Homo sapiens: one gene and its partner. The protein of the gene in region 1 interacts with the protein of each later gene in a pairwise test. Each region holds a gene or a part of one and is shown in the gene's direction. Other genes may lie near its edges. The genes, in order: DEAF1 and INTS1.

The links.
Region 2: the proteins of DEAF1 (region 1) and INTS1 interact in a two-hybrid assay, tested with the Homo sapiens proteins (one large-scale study listed by IntAct).

Annotation. Positions count from the first base shown.
Region 1 is NC_000011.10:674,570-678,373, reverse strand, and holds part of DEAF1 (deformed epidermal autoregulatory factor 1 homolog), read left to right. Parts: intron 1-3,590; coding exon 3,591-3,804. UniProt on the Homo sapiens protein: Transcription factor that binds to sequence with multiple copies of 5'-TTC[CG]G-3' present in its own promoter and that of the HNRPA2B1 gene. Down-regulates transcription of these genes.
Region 2 is NC_000007.14:1,483,650-1,487,453, reverse strand, and holds part of INTS1 (integrator complex subunit 1), read left to right. Parts: intron 1-4; coding exon 5-134; intron 135-352; coding exon 353-532; intron 533-679; coding exon 680-829; intron 830-1,984; coding exon 1,985-2,164; intron 2,165-2,251; coding exon 2,252-2,356; intron 2,357-3,283; coding exon 3,284-3,451; intron 3,452-3,600; coding exon 3,601-3,712; coding exon of another isoform or gene 3,713-3,753; intron 3,754-3,804. UniProt on the Homo sapiens protein: Component of the integrator complex, a multiprotein complex that terminates RNA polymerase II (Pol II) transcription in the promoter-proximal region of genes.

The DNA of each region.
Region 1 (3,804 bases):
TCCCCAGTGGCAGGTCTTGGTCTCTCCAGAGCTGGCATAGACATTCGGTATCTGGTGAAAGAAAGAAAAACCAAGGCCTAAATGTGGCCTAAATCTTTAAAATGACGATACACTGTAAATGCATTCTAACTTTGATTTTTCGTTTAACTGCACTTCTATTTTTTTGAGACTGAGTCTCGCTCTATTGCCCAGGCTGGGGTGCAGTGGCGCAATCTTGGCTCACTGCAACCTCTGCCTGGTTCAAGTGATTCTCCTGCCTCAGCCTCCCAGGTAGCTGGGATTACAGATCTCGAACTCCTGACCTCAAGTGATCCATCCGCCTCAGCCTCCCAAAGTGCTGGGATTACAGGTGTGAGCCACCACATGCAGCCAAGATTTCTGTATAATTATACGTTTTTTGTTTTTTTTTTTGAGACAGAGTGTCACTCTGTCGCCCAGGCTGGAGTGCAGTGGTGCGATCTCGGCTCACTGCAACCTCTGCCTGCCAGGTTTAAGCAATTCTCCTGCCTCAGCCTCCTGAGTAGCTGGGACTACAGGTGCACGCCACCATGCCCAGCTAATTTTTTTTTGTTATTGTATTTTTAGTAGAGATGGGGTTTCACCATGCTGGTCAGGCTGGTCTCAAACTCCTGACCTCATGATCCACCTGCCTTGGCCTCCCAAAGTGCTGGGATTACAGGCGTGAGCCATCGTGCCCAGCCATCATTATACTTTTTTAAAGGGTGCATATGATCAATACATGATTGATTGAACCCTCCCCTGCTGGTGGCAAATGCATGTTTTCCATTTTTCACTGTCACAGACAGCGCAAGAAACTTGTTCATGAAAAACTTACCTTTTCATTTTCATTTGCTTGTTTCATTATTCTCTCTTTTGCCTATCTAAACTCTTTCCATCTTTAAAGCTTACCTCAGGGCTGGGCGTGGTGGCTCATCCTTTTTTTGTTTTTTTTTTGAGATGGAGTCTTGATCTGTTGCCCAGGCTGGAGTGTAGACTTCAGGCACGCGCCACCATGCCCGGCTAATTTTTGTATTTTTAGTAGAGATGGGGTTTCACCGTGTTGGCCAGGATGGTCTTGATCTCTTGACCTTGTGATCTGCCTGCTTTGGCCTCCCAAAGTGCTTGGATTACAGGCGTGTGGCTTACCTGTTTAATCCCAGCACTTTAGGAGGCCGAGGCCAGGAGTTTGAGACCGGCCTGGGCAACATAAGGAGACCCCATCTCTATTAACTGGAAAAAAAAAAAAAGTGTGGGGTGGGTGTTGGTGAAGTATTTATACCAAGAAATCAGCAAATGCTTGAAATCAGAGCTTTTTCTCCAGGAGGGCTGGGGTTCGCATCGACCGCTTGCCCCTGGTACAAGGTGTGCATGTGGCTCCTGGATCTCTGTCCCCAGGTGCCCTTGGTGGGCAGAAGTCAGAAATGTTCTCATGTGCACGTGTGCGTGTTTGTGCTCCAAATCTGTGTGTGTTGAAAACCATGAGTTTGCCCCAGTGTCTCTAGTTCCAGTGCAGAACCTCAGGGTTTGTGCTAGTTCCTTTGTAACTTTCTTCTCCAATTGTAAGAAACCCCGCTGGGCGTGGTGGCTCACGCCGGTAATCCCAGCGCTTTGGGAGGCCGAGGCGGGTGGATCACCTGAGGTCAGGAGTCCGAGACCAGCCTGACCAACGTGGAGAAACCCCATCTCTACTAAAAATACAAAATTAGCCAGGCCTGGTGGCAGATGCCTGTAATCCCAGCTACTCGGGAGGCTGAGGCAGGCGAATCACTTGAACCCGGGAGGGCAGTGAGCCAAGATGATGCCACCGCCCTCCAGCCTGGGCGACACAGCGAGACTCTGATTTAGCCACTTCCCTCCCCTGGTCATTGTCCACGGCGCTGATTCTGCGAACATTTCAGGGTCCAGCAGCCGCATTCAGATGAGTTGTACAACATGGAGCTGGGTGGGTGGAGCAGGAAGGGATGGGACATCCTCCTGCCTGTGTTGCCTGCTGGGGGGATGTCAGGCTGAGTGCTCGGGGATGTCAGGTGCTGGGGGGATGTCGGGTGCTGGGGGGATGTCGGGTGCTGGGGGTGTCGGGTGCTGGGGGGATGTCAGGCTGCGTGCTGGGGGATGTCAGGTGCTGGGGGGATGTCAGGTGCTGGGGGTATCGGGTGCTGGGGGATGTCAGGCTGAGTGCTGGGGGATGTCAGGTGCTTGGGGATGTCAGATGCTGGGGGGATGTCAGGTGCTGGGGGTGTCGGGTGCTGGGGGATGTCAGATGCTGGGGGGTGTCAGGTGCTGGGGGGGATGTCGGGTGCTGGGGGGTGTCGGATGCTGGGGGTTGTCGGGTGCTGGGGGGTGTCGGGTGCTGGGGGGTGTCGGGTGCCGGGGGGTGCCAGGTGCCCCGGGGGATGTCGGGTGCCGGGGGATGTCAGGCTGCGTGCTGGGGGATGTCAGGTGCTGGGGGGTGTCAGGTGCTGGGGGGATGTCAGGCAGTGATTTGTTGTTTGCTGGTCAGTTTTTTACCCGACTTCCCAACATTGCGTGAGAGTTTTCTTTTCTTTTCTTTTTTGAGATGGAGTCTCACTCTGTCACCCAGGCTTGAGTCCACTGGCACCATCTCGGCTCACCACAACTTCTGCCTCCCAGGTTCAAATGATTCTCATGCCTCAGCCTCCCAGGTAGCTGGGATTATAGACGCTTCCACGCCTAGCTAATTTTTGTATTTTTTGGTAGAAATGGGGTTTCACCATGTTGACCAGGCTAGCCTCGAACTCCTGACCTCAAGGGATCTGCCCGCCTCGGCCTCCCAAAGTGCTGGGATTACAGGTGTGAGCCACTGTGCCTGGCCTCTTTTCTTTTTGAGACAGGGTCTCATTAAGTCACCAAGGCCGAAGGACGGTGGCGCAGTCATGGCTCACTGTAGCCTCGACCACCTGGGCTCAAACCATCCTCCCGCCTCAGCTTCCTGAGTAGCTGGGATCACAGGTGAATGTCACCATGCCCATCTAGTTCTTTGTTTTTGATTTCTGTTTTGTAGAGGCAAGGTCCTGCTATGTTGCCCAGGCTGGTCTTGAACTCCTGAGCTCAAGTGATCCTCCCACCTCAGTCTCCCAAAGTGCAGGGATTACAGGCATGAGCCACTGCACCGGGTGATGAGAATTTTTATTTATTTTTTATTTTTAAATTTTATTTGTTTATTTTTTTGAGATGGAGTCTCACTCTGTTGCCCAGGCTGGAGTGCAGTGGTGCCATCTCTGTTCACTGCAAGCTCTGCCTCCCGGCTTCACACCTTTCTCCTGCCTCAGCCTCCCGAGGTAGCTGGGACTACAGGCGTCTACCACCACGTCCAGCTAATTTTTTGTATTTTTTTTAGCCAATTTTTTGTATTTTTTTGTATTTTTTTAAACACAGTGAAACGCGGGGTTTCACTGTTAGCCAGGATGGTCTCGATCTCCTGACCTCATGATCCGCCTGCCTTGGCCTCCCAAAGTGCTGGGATTACAGGCGTGAGCCACCGCGCCCGGCTGAGAATTTTTAACGGAGGCCATTTTGAAGCTAGGAGATGTATTAATTTCTTGGTTTGTTTTGCTTTCCAAATGCTCTAGTGTTGACATCCCTGCCTGCGCTGGCGGTCCCACCCCCGACTCCCACCAAAGCGGCACCTCCCGCGTTGGTCAATGGGCTGGAGCTGTCAGAGCCGCGGAGCTGGCTGTACCTAGAAGAGATGGTCAACTCCTTGCTCAACACAGCGCAGCAGCTGAAGACGCTGTTTGAGCAAGCCAAGCATGCCAGCACCTACCGAGAAGCTGCCACAAACCA
Region 2 (3,804 bases), on another chromosome or scaffold:
TCAGGGGGCCCCCCCGGAGGCCTCCCCCTCACATCCTGGATCAAGTGAAAAGCCTCAACCAGTCCCTCCGCCTCGGGCACCTCTTGTGCCGCAGCCGAAACCCTGACTTTCTCCTCCACATCATCCAGCGGCAGGTGAGTGCCGAGGCTCCAGGAGGTAGAGATGGTGGTCTTGGGAGGCCCGGAACCTTCCGGAGGCCTTGGTGGCCAGAAGAGGGCAGGACACACCTGGATGCGGGGCCCATGAGCTGGCTGCTGCGTGTCGCCCTTTCCGGCTCCGCGGTCACCCGGGGGGCTGGCGGCAGGTGTTGGGCCTGGAAGGTGCTGAGCGGGCGCCACTGTCGCCTGCCCAGGCCTCCTCGCAGTCCATGCCCTGGCTGGCGGACCTGGTACAGTCCAGCGAGGGCTCCCTGGACGTGCTGCCCGTGCAGTGTCTGTGCGAGTTCCTGCTGCACGATGCTGTGGACGATGCTGCTTCCGGGGAGGAGGACGACGAGGGCGAGAGCAAGGAGCAGAAGGCCAAGAAGCGGCAGGTCAGGGCCGCCCACCCCTCAGCCCCCCCGCCTCTCACCCCGCACCCCTGTCAGGGCAACCCATGCCTGAGCCCACCAGCCGCGCACCCCACGTCCTACCCGCCTGGCCTGTCACCTGCACCCCTGAGAGCCCCTTCCTCCCTGCAGAGGCAACAGAAGCAGCGGCAGCTGCTGGGCCGCCTGCAGGACCTGCTACTGGGCCCGAAGGCTGATGAGCAGACCACGTGTGAGGTGCTGGACTACTTCTTGCGGCGCCTCGGCTCCTCCCAGGTGGCCTCCCGCGTGCTGGCCATGAAGGTGAGGTGGTGGGCGGGTCTTTCTGCGCACGCTCTTCATGTTTAAAATGAGTAGGCTGGGGACCGGGCACGGTGGCTCACGCCTGTCATCCCAGCACTTTGGGAGGCCAAGGCAGGCAGATTACCTGAGGTCAGGAGTTGGAGACCAGCCTGGCCAACATGGTGAAATCCCGTCTCTATTAAAAATAGAAAAAATTAGCTGGGCGTGGTGGAGGGGGCCTGTAATCCCAGGTACTCTGGAGGCTGAGGCAGGAGACTCGCTTGTACCTAGGAGGCGGAGGTTGAGGTGAGCCAAGATTGTGCCACTGTACTCCAGCCTGGGCAACAAGTGAAACTCCATCTCAAAAAAAAAAAAATAAATAAATGAAAAATAAAGAAGTAAAATGAGTAGGCCTGGGGCAGTGGCTTGCTCTTGTCATCCCAGCACTTTGGGAGGCCGAGGTGGGAGCATCACTTGAGTCCAGGAGTTTGAGACCAGCCTGGGCAACACAGGAAGATCCTCTCTCTACAAAAACTGAAAAAATTAGCCAGGTGTGGTAGTGTGTGCCTGTGTTCCCAGCTACTTGGGAAGCTGAGGCAGGAGGATCACTTGAGCCCAGGAGTTTGAGACCAGCCTGGGCAACATAATGATACCCATCTCTACAAAAAATAAAAGATGAGAAAAATGAGCTGGGTGTGGCAGCATGCACCTGTGGTCCAAGCCACTTGGGAGGCTGAGATGGGAGAATCACTTGAGGCTGTAGTGAGCTGTGATCACACCACTGCACTCCAGCCTAGGCAACAGAATGAGACCCTGTCTTAAAAAGGAAAAGTAAAAATCAAATGAGTGTTCAGTGCACTCTGACTGTATTTTAAGTTCCTTCCCTGCGTAGGAAGGATGCGCTAGTGAAACGTGAAGGTGGACCCTGCCGCCTGCCTGGTGTTCCTTTCTTGCTGGTGACGGGAGGGTCCAGAGTGGCTTCAGGAACTTGAACAGAAGCATTTAACAGAAAGAGCTCAGTCTCGTTTTTCCCTTTTACCTGCGGCCTCTCCCGTGGGAAGCAAGCGCCACATTCTCCTCGGGGCTCTGAGGGCACCATGCGTGTGCTCCCGGGGCCAGGGTGAGACCCTGCCTGCACTGCCGAAAGCCGGCCCAGCTCATGAGTGTCTGCCACAGGGTTTGTCGCTGGTGCTTTCGGAGGGCAGCCTGCGGGACGGGGAGGAGAAGGAGCCCCCCATGGAGGAGGATGTGGGGGACACAGATGTGCTGCAGGGCTATCAGTGGCTGCTGCGGGACCTGCCTCGCCTGCCTCTGTTCGACAGCGTCAGGAGCACCACAGCCCTGGCCCTGCAGCAGGTGAGGGCGCTGACCGGGGCCGCGGCAGGGAAAGATGAGAGGGCCGCAGCCCTGCCCTGTTGCCGCTCAGACCACCCTCCCCTCCAGGCAATCCACATGGAGACTGATCCCCAGACCATCAGCGCCTACCTGATCTACTTGTCCCAGCACACGCCTGTGGAGGAGCAGGCCCAGCACAGCGACCTGGCCCTGGTGAGGCAGCAGGGTCAGCCAGCAGTGTGGCCCTGGGGAGGGGACGGGGCCAGCCGGCAGTGTGGCCCTGGGGAGGGGACGGGGCCAGCCGGCAGTGTGGCCCTGGGGAGGGGACGGGGCCAGCCGGCAGTGTGGCCCTGGGGAGGGGACGGGGTCAGCACAGAGACCCTGCCCTGGGGAGGGTAAGGGGCCAGTGGTGCAGTGCCCTGGGCTGGCGGCTTCTTGGGCCACAGGGAGGCATTGAGGGTGGGAGGGCCGTCACGGCTGCTGTGCTGGGGCTTCTATGACCCCGTGGCCACCTGTGTCCCTTCCTTAGTCACCACTCACTCCCTGGAGCCTTTCTCCCCAGACCCTGAGGATGCGAAGCCACGGGGGTGAGGGTGCCTTGTTCACAGCAGGGTGGAATCTGAGCCATCAGCCTTCTCCCCGACGCCAGGAGGGTTTGGGCTGTGGGCCCAGGTCGCTGGGCACCTGCCCGCTGTCCTCAGCATCTCTAGCTCACATGTGTGGCGCTGACTCCCATCTTCTCTCCTGGGTGCTGTCCTTCTCTGCTGGGCTGCTTCTCACTTTGCATCACGGTTCTCTTGTCCACAACCTGCGCTGTGACCTAGTGAAAGTTGGTGGCCCGAGTCCTCAGGGAATGAGCGATAGGTGAACAGATGGTGGCTGCCGGGCAGAGGGCAGCAGCGTCCGCTTTCAGGGCCTGGTCATTGTCCCTGGCTGTGAGAGTCGTGTCCTCCCTCCCCCCTGGAGAGTCCGACCCAGCTCTGGTCGTCTTCCCTGGCGGCCTGCGGCTGAGTGAGGGTCTGCGGTGCCGCGGGCCCTGCTTAAGATCCCAGTGAGAGCGTGCCTGCGACGAGGTCACCCCAGCTGGCCGGAGAGCAGAGCTGTCTCGGAGCCTCTGACGCCCCCCTGTCCACACACCAGGACGTGGCCCGGCTGGTCGTGGAGCGCTCCACCATCATGTCCCACCTCTTCTCGAAGCTCTCCCCGAGTGCCGCGTCGGACGCCGTGCTGAGCGCTCTGTTGTCCATCTTCTCACGCTACGTGAGGCGCATGCGGCAGAGCAAGGAGGGCGAGGAGGTCTACAGCTGGGTGAGGGCGAGGAGGTCTACGGCCGGGTGAGGGCGAGGAGGTCTACGGCTGGGTGAGGCTGCACGGCACGCTCGGTGCCAGCTGGGTACCCTCGGCGCTGGCTCAGGGTCCCTGAACCTTACGGCCTGACTCCACCTCTTTTCCCACAGTCGGAGTCTCAGGACCAGGTCTTCCTACGCTGGAGCAGCGGGGAGACAGCCACCATGCACATCCTCGTGGTCCATGCCATGGTGATCCTGCTGACGCTGGGCCCGCCTCGAGGTGAGCCGCCACAGGCCCCGGGAGGGGCAGCTTCGTGCCAGGTGGGCCACAGCCCTGACCACACCCAGCGGCTTCCGCATCCTTGCCTTGCT